Regions from separate parts of the Homo sapiens genome. Here region 1 is linked to region 2. Evidence: fine-mapped expression QTL. A gene starts in region 2. The other region holds a variant in brackets. All regions are shown on one strand. Distances are from middle to middle. Region 1 overlaps ACSM1 (acyl-CoA synthetase medium chain family member 1). Region 2 holds the start of ACSM3 (acyl-CoA synthetase medium chain family member 3).

Region 1 (4,398 bases), 97 kb after region 2:
GTACATCATGATGACAATTCAAGTCACCTGCATGAATTCTTTCTGTCTATGTCCCTTCACCCCAACATTTTCTTTATGTCTCCACTCACACCCTTGCTTTCCCTCTCAGAGGCAGACCTTGCCCTCCACCTCTCAAAATCCACCCGCTCTGCACAACCACTGCAGAGTTCTGTCTCCTGGCCTTGGATAAACAGCATTTCTTTATTAATCTTTAATCTACTATGCATTTTCTCCTGTATTTTCAGTCTCTCACTTTTCGCTAGTTTTACACCCTCAGTCCGTAAACATATTCAGTGTACTTATCCTAAAATGCCTTCCTTTGAACCTGCTACACACTGGGTCAACCCATCTTTTCCACCTTAATACCAAACTTCACCAAAGAACATCCTCCATTTGCTGCAGCCACCTCTGCTTCACCTAGCCTGCTCCTGAATACTGCAGTGCTCCAGTGGTCTGCCCTTACTGTTCTTCTTTCTAAGCAATTTCCTTCACCTCCATTTTTCTCAGCAAGCACATCAATGCAGGTGGCTGTCAGGACTGTACCTAGGGTCTAGTCTTCTCGGTCCAAGCTGATTCTCCCAGGCTAGCAAAACATTTCCAACCTGCTAGTTGGTAAAGCCCATCTGATCATTCCTCCAGAACATCAAACTGCACTTCCCATATCTCATTACCTACCTCTATATCAATGCCTCCTCCTGTGTCACCATCATTATTTTCTGTACCACATTCTGCACCTGAGACTTAAAGCACCACAAACAAGACTGACCACCCTTCCCATCCTCATGCCTAATTCTTCCGCTGCTATAGAGAGTGTCCCAAAAGGTCTTTATGTATTTTAAGCCTTAGTAAATGCTTAAAGTTTAAAATTCTACAAATTTACCAAAAAAGCATTTGCATTACTATTTCCCACTTACTATTTTTATGAATTATTCATAATAATTTTTAATTTAGATATTGTATTAGTCCATCTTATTGAAGACTAAAACAAAAAGTCTTTTAAATTTTTGATTCAGAGGGTGCATGTGCAGATTCGTTACATGAGTATATTGCATGATTCTGAGGTTTGGAGTAAGAATATTCTCATGACCCAGCTAGTGCATATAGTACCCAATAAGTTTTTCAGCCCACGACCCCCTCCCTGTCTCTCCCTTCTCATAGTGTCTATTGTTATCCCCAGCATCTATTGTTTCCAACTTTATGTCCATGTGTATTCAATGTTTAGTTCCCACTTATAAGTGAGAAAAAAATGATGTTTGGTTTTTTACTCCTGCATAAATTTACTTAGGATAACAGCCTCCAGCTTCATCCATGTTGCTGCCAAAGACATGATTTCATTCTTCTTTATGGCTGTGTAGTATTGCATGGTGTATATGTAGCACATTTTCTTTATACCAGTCCACCATTGATGGGCACCTAGGTCAATTTGATGTCTTTGCTATTGTGAATAGCACTGCCAATAACATATGAGCCTCTGTGTCTTCTTGGTAGAACCATTTATTTTCCTTTGGATATATACCCAGTAATGGGATTGCTGGGTCAAACGGTAGTTCTAAGTTTGTTGAGGAATTTTCAAATTGCTTTCCACAGTGGCTAAACTAATTTGCATTTCTATCAATAGTATATAAGCATTCCATTTTTTCCAAAGCCTCACCAGCATTTGTTTTTGACCTTTTAATAATCACCATTCTGATAGGTGTGAGATGGTATCTCACTGTGGTTTTAATTTGCATTTCTCTGATTAATGACATTGAGCATTTTTTCATATGTTTGTTGGATGCTTGCATGTCTTCTTTTGAGAAGTGTCTGTTTATGTACTTTGCCCATTTTTTAATTGGATTATTTGGGTTTTACTTGTTGATTTGTGTTCTTTGTAGATTCTGATATTAGTTCTAATTAGACATCACATATAAGAGTCTACAAATAACTTAAATTCTTTGTAGAATCTGGATATTTGATTCTGGATGTTGTCAGATGCATAGTTTGAAAATATTTTCTCCCACTCTGTAAGCTGTTTACTCTCTTGATAATTTCTTTTGCTGTGCTGAAGCTCTTTAGTTTAATTGGGTCCCACTTGTTAATTTTTGGTTTTGATGCAATTGGTTTTGGGGACTTAGCCATAAATTCTTTGCCATAGCTAATATCCAGAAGAGTATTTCCTAGATTTTCTTCTAGGATATTTACAGTGTAATGTTTTATATTTAAATCCTTACTCCATCTTGAGTTAATTTTTGTATATGGCGAAAGGTAGGAGCCCAGGTTTATTCTGCTACATATGGCTAGCCAGTTTTCCCAGCACCATTTATGGAATAGGAAGTCCTTTCTCCATTGCTTATTTTTGTTCACTTTGTTGAAGACCATATGGCTATAGCTGTGACTTCTCTATTGTGTTTCACTGGTGTATTTGTCTGTTTTTGTACCAGTACCATGCTGTTTTGGTTACTGTAGCCTTATGACATAGTTTGAAGTTGGGCAACGTGATGCCTCTAGCTTTGTTCTTTTCAGTATTCAAGCCCTTTTTGGTACTATATGAGTTTTAAAGTCGTTTTTTCTGATTCTGTGAAAAATGACATTGGTATTTTAATAGGCATAGCATTGAATCTATAAATTGCTTTAGGCAATATGGTCATGTTAACAATATTGATTCTTCCAATATATGAGCATGGAATCTTTTTCCATTTATTTGTGTCATCTCTGATTTCTTTCAGCAGTGTTTTGTAGTTTTCTTTGTAGCC[A/G]TCTTTCACCTCCTTGGTTAGATGTATTCTTAGGTATTTCATTTTTAGTGGTAGTTGTAAATCAGATTGTGTTCTTGATTTGACTGTCAGCTAGAACATTGTTGGTGTATGGAAATGCTAATTTTTGTACACTGATTTTATATCCTGGAACTTTACTGAAGTTGTTTATCCGTTCCAGGAACCCTTTGGTAGAGTTTTTAGGGTTTTTTAATGTATATAATCATATATTGTCAGCAAAAAGAGATAGTTTGACTTTTTTTCTATTTGAATATCTTTTATTTCTTTCTCTTGCTTGATTGCTTTGGGTAGGACTTCCAATTCTATGTTGAATAGGAGTGGTGAGAGTGGGCATCCTACACTTTTTCCAATTCGCATGGGAAATGGTTCCAGCTTTTGCCTGGTCAGTGTGATGCTGGCTGTGGGCTTGTCATAGATGGCTATTATTTAGAGGTATGTTCTTTCAATGCCTCATTTCTTGAGGGGCTTTATCATGAAGAGAGATTGGATTTTTTGAAAGCTTTTTCTGCACCTACTAAGAGGATCATATGGCTTTTCTTTTTTATTCTGTTTAAGAGGTGAATCCTGTTTATTGATCTGCATATGTTGACCCAACCTTGCATCCCAGGAATAAAGCCTACTTGATCATGGTGAATTAACTTTTTGATGTGCTGCAGGACTCAGTTTACTAGTATTTTGTTGAGAATTTTTGCATCTACGTTTATCAGGGATATTGGCCTGGAGTTTTCTTTTGTCATTGTATCTCTGCCATATTTTGGTGCCAAAAGCATTCTGGCTTCATAGAATGGTTAGAAAGGAGTCCCTTCTCCTTAATCTTTTGGATTAGTTACAGAGGGATTGGTACCAGTTCTTTGTATATCTGTTAGAATTCAGCTGTGATTCTATCTTGTCCAGGGCTTTTTGGGATTAGTAATTACTGATTCAATTTCAGAACTTGTAATTTGTCTGTTCAGGTTTTCACTTTCTTTCTGGTTCAATGTTGAGAGGCTGTGTGTTCCCAAGAATTTATCCATTTCCTGTAGATTTTCTAATTCAGGTGCATCAGTGTGTTCATAATAGTCTCTGAGAATCTTTTATATTTCTGTGGGACCATTTATAGTGTCATCTATGTCATTTCCGATTGGGCTTATTTTGATCTTCTCATTTTTTTCTTTGTTAATCTAGCTAGCAGTCTATCAATATTGTTTATTCTTTTGAAAAACAAGCTCTCAGTTTCATTGATATTTTGTATAAACTTTTGCATCTTAATTTCATTCAGTTCTTTAATTTTAATTATTTATTTTCTTCTGATAGCTTTGGTGTTTGTTGGTTGTTCTTTTTTTTCCTAGTTCCTCTAGAAGTGATATTAGATTCTTAATTAGCGATCTTTCTAACTTCTTAATGAAGGCATTTAGTGCTATAAACTTTCCTCTAACATTGCTTCAGGTGCATCTCAACGATTTTGGTAGATGGTATCTCTATTTTCATTTTCATTAATTTCAGAAACTTTTTTGACTTCTTGTTCACCCAAGAGTTATTCAGGAGAAAATTGTTTAATTTCCATGTTTTTATATGGTTTTCAGTGATCTTGTTGACATTGATTTCTGTTTTTCTTGCACTGTGGTCTAACAATGTACTTTGGTAAGATTTTGATTTTTTGAATTTATTG
Region 2 (4,398 bases):
TTCTATTAAATAAAAGGCAGGAATTTGGACAAATATCTTAAGGTCTTGAGCTTCATTCTTGGTAGGTTGGCATGATTCATTTATTTATTCAACAATTATTAATCACTTGCCATGAATTATTTCAGACATAGAGGATACAGGAGGGAATGCAAGAGACAAGGTCCTCCTTGCTCTCATAGAAAGACACATATAGTAAACAAGGGAATAAATAAATGTGATGTTACGCAAGAAAACAAAGAGAGTAATGGGAGAAAAGGGACCTTTTAGGAGGTCTCTCTAGGGACGTAACATTTTTGCTGAGATCTGGCAAGTGGTTGTACTGTTAAGCATTTTGCAGTTATTTATTAGTATTTTCATTTTACAGACAAGGAAGTATACACAAACAGACACACATATTTAAATTGGACAACGCATTTATTCATTACCCGTGTATTTATTGAACACTTGGTATATGCCAGACCTGTACTAAATGCTGAAAATATAGCTGTGAACAAGACACGGCTGGTCTTGCTCCCATGAAGCTTATAGACTATTAAGGAAGACATTAAATAATTATGTAAATATTAATATGATTGGAGATAAATATATCATACTTAGCTTGCTGATTCTGAATAGAATCAGAGTTTAGTATGATTTGTTCCCTAGCTCCCATACAATACTCTACACCACATTCAGAATCCTTCAAACGTATGTTGAAAAGAAAATTGATCAGTCATTTGGAGCTTAAAATGAACCTAACCATTCTGTTCTACCAAAAAGCAAATATCGACATCCTCTTCATCAAAACCATAAGATTACCTTCTCCTCAACAAAGTTCTTTTCCTCCCTTTTCATCGATCTTAGCATTTTACAACTTCTATTTCCCAGGTTTATAAAATTATTTGTAGGTAAAATTGCTGAGATAACTTTCCCAGGGTGACTCCAGATTTTTATACTGAGCCACAGAAACATTGGTAAGGAAAACTCTTCTAAGAAAGACAGTACCACCCCTGGTCAGATAGGCTTCTGAAAGTATTTAAGGTCTCATCTGAAATGCAAGCTCTTTGTCCCTACAGCCAAGGGGGCTTTAGCCTCCCCACAGCTCCCTAAACATCCCTCCCTCTAAGTATCCAAGTAATAACAGTAGTTTAACATATACAGCCTCAACGCAAGGTAAATTCACTGCTGTTGTCTCCAAACCCAACCAGACCCTGCCTGAAGCCCCTCCTATACAGAACTTTTGCAGCTGCCCTTGACCACCTAAAGGAGAAAACTGGCTGCTCTTAGGTTTGCATCTGTGTTTCCCAAAGTTTCCTGGAAGTAATTTACATACTTTCTGGATGATGCAGAAGATGGATTCCCATCTGTCACTGAGCAAGGTGGGGAGCTAAGCAGACAGTACAATGAAAATCTCAGCCACTACCTGGTCTTTTTTTTGAGATGGAGTCTTGTTCTGTCACCCAGGCTGGAGTGCAGTGATGCAATCTCAGCTTACTGCAAACTCCACCTCCCAGGTTCAAGTGACTCTACTGCCTCAGGCTCCCAAGTAGCTGGGGTTACAGGCACCTGCCACCACACCTGGCTAATTTTTTATTTTCAGTAGAGATAGGGTTTCACCATGTTGGCCAAGCTGGTCTCGAACTCCTGGCCTCAAGTGATCTGCATCTGCCCACCATAGCCTCCTAAAGTGGTGGGATTACAGGCTTGAGCCACCGCATCTGGTTCAATTAAAATTAAAAAAAAAATTTATCAACTTAATACATGTACATAGTTTTTCAAAAAATCAAATAGCACCAAAAGGCTCAACATGAAAACTCAGCTGCTACATTTATAGCCTTTTGTGTGTGCATACTCCTCATCACTTAATAGATAGTATCACACAACTGAGAAATTCTGAGAGAAACTTTGGCTGCCCAAGACTTTAATGACAGCATTTTTGATTGTTGGTTTTGTTCATCTGTTTGTTATCTTTGCTCAAAAAACAGATGTGCCAGTTCAGGAAATCTTACACAGGAGGGGAGATGAGGTACTCACTAGTTAACAGATTCCAACACAGATGGAGATTATGGCAGACTTGTTTCTTAGAAGAGCAGCCCTGAACCTTGAGTTCTCACATCTGCTTTTTCCTCGTGGCAGTCTAAAGAAGAGGGAGGAGCAGTCTGACAATCCGGAGGAGCAAGACTGGCCCAAAACACTTTCCTTGATTGGTGGAGACATTCTGGAGGAGGAGCCAAGCTCTGGGCTAAAGTTTACAGGACTCCCAGCGGTTCCTCTTACAGGTAATGATTTACAGAAACAGCAAGCTTTTGAGGGGCGGAGAAAGCAAATTATTAACAAGAAGGAAAGTGTCCAAGGAGTTGCCGAAGTGGTTAGTTCTGTAAAGGGGCAGAGAGAGCACTTCTCAGAAGGAAGAACAGATGGAGGAAGCCATAGAGGAGTTTTGAAATTGAAAGGAAAGAAGTTGAGGGGCGGTTATGGGTTGGCCTAAATCTCATCAAGCCCATTGGTGCGTTTATCTGTCGAAGTGGCAGGACTAAACATAAACGCTATCAGGTTACTCCCCTGCTCAAATCTTTCAGTGCTTCTTTTTCCACTCCAGGTAAAATCCGAGTCCTTACATGAACTGCAAGGAGTTGTATGATCTGGCACAGGGTCCTCTGATCCACAGCCCATTCTCCTTCCTCTGCCTCACTCTGCACAGCCACCGGCCTCCTTGCTTTTTCTCAAACACACTTGCCTGTTTCAGCCTCAGGCTTTCTGAATTCACAGTTTCCACTGACTGGAACTCTTTCCTCAGATATCCCCCTGGCCAAATTCCTCATTTTCTGAGGTGTCTTATTAAATAACTCTTCCCTTACCTCATTTTCTAAAGTAGCACTCTTCATTTTTTCTCTTTTACCATTTTTTAACTTTTTACATCTCTTACTATCACCCTTGAGGGTAAGAACTCTTTTTGTTTGATGGTGTATCTATTGCCTGGAATAGCTACTGGCAAATTTTAGGCATTCAATAAATAGTTGATGGATATGTGAATAAATAAAGGACTCTTTCAATTACATGTGAGAGACCCAACTTTACTTAAAGAGGAATTTGTTGGTCACTTTTGAGTTCTAGGAGTCTTTTGTTGTTGATTCCTTGGGATTTTCTGTGTAATCACATTACCTGTAAATAAGTAAACAGATCTTACTTCTTTCTTTCAGATCTATATGCGTTTTATTTCCTTTTCTTGCCTTATTGCGCAGGCTAGAGTGTCTAGCTCTACGTTGAATAAGAGTGATGAGAGCAGACATCCTTGCCTTGCTTTTGATCTTAGAGGGAAAACATTCAGTCTTTCATGGTTAGGTACAATATTAGTAGTAGGTTTTGTGTAGATGCCCTTTATCAAGTTGAGGAAATTCTCCTCTATTTCTATTTTTTTCTGAGTGTTTTTATCATGAATAGGTGTTGAATTTTGGCAAGTGTTTTTTCTGCATCAGTTACTATAAGCATGTGGTGTTTTTCTTCTTTAGCCTGTTAATAAGATAGATTACACTGATCTTCTAATATTGAACCAGCCTTGCCTCCCTGGAATAAACCTTGCTTGGTCCTGTTGTATATTTCTTTTTCTGTATTGCTGAATTCTATAGTTATGTCTCTTGACAAATTTGAGAACTTTTCAGCTATTATTTCTTGGAGTAAATTTTTAGCCCCCATGTTAGATCTTTTATGATAGTTTCACAGGTCCCTGAGGCTCTGTTCTTTTTTTTCTTTTTTTTCCCATTCTAGTTTCTTTCTTTTGTTCAGGTTGAGTAAATTCTGGCTTCCAGTTCTTTGATTTTTTTCTTCTATTATTTCTATTCTGATGTTAAGCTCATTATTAGAGACAGGGAAAAAACAGTGTTTTTTTTTCTACTCTCACATACCATTCAGCATAATGTTAGCAGTGGTGAATCCATACGGATCTACAATAACTTGATTCTTGCCTCTTCAAAGGAAAGAATTCATCCAAGAGGCATAAGGCAGAGTGAGAGACTGAGGCAAGTTTTTGAGCAGGAGTGAGAGTTTATTAGAAAGTTTTAGAGCAGGAACCAAAGGAAGAGGGGCAAGCAGGCAACTTGAGAGATCCAGGTGCCCTGTTTGACTTTTGACTTTGCGTTTTATACATTGGCATGCTTCCGAGGTTTTGTATCTCCTTTGATTTTTTCCTTGGCATGGGCTGTCTGCACGTGCAGTGGCCTGTCAGCACTTGGGAGGGGCCACATGTGCAATGTCTTTACTGAAGTTGTGCACATTCTCATTTGAGGCGTTTTTCCCTTACCAGTCAAGTGTTCCTAGAGGAAGGTTGTATACCAGTTAAAATCTGCCATTTTGCCTCTTAGTACGCATGCTTGAGCACACTTGCCCAGTTCCTGAGATCTTATTGGAAAGCTGCTGATCACC

What was found. PIP is the estimated chance that this variant, and not a neighbour inherited with it, causes the effect.
Region 1: its variant is the best candidate, but not a certain one, in a credible set for the expression of ACSM3 in whole blood (INTERVAL, PIP 0.51).

What each region holds. Positions count from the first base shown.
Region 1 is chr16:20,664,767-20,669,164 of GRCh38, reverse strand. All of the region lies in intron 6 of ACSM1 (acyl-CoA synthetase medium chain family member 1), which reads left to right. Among named protein-coding and RNA genes, the nearest start is that of ACSM1, 31 kb to the left of the region's middle. The variant A/G (reference allele first, on the strand shown) is at 2,733.
Region 2 is chr16:20,761,741-20,766,138 of GRCh38, reverse strand. ACSM3 (acyl-CoA synthetase medium chain family member 3) reads right to left here and starts at 2,125. Exons shown (of 14, transcript NM_005622.4): 1 at 2,014-2,125. RefSeq lists an enhancer at 1,859-1,988.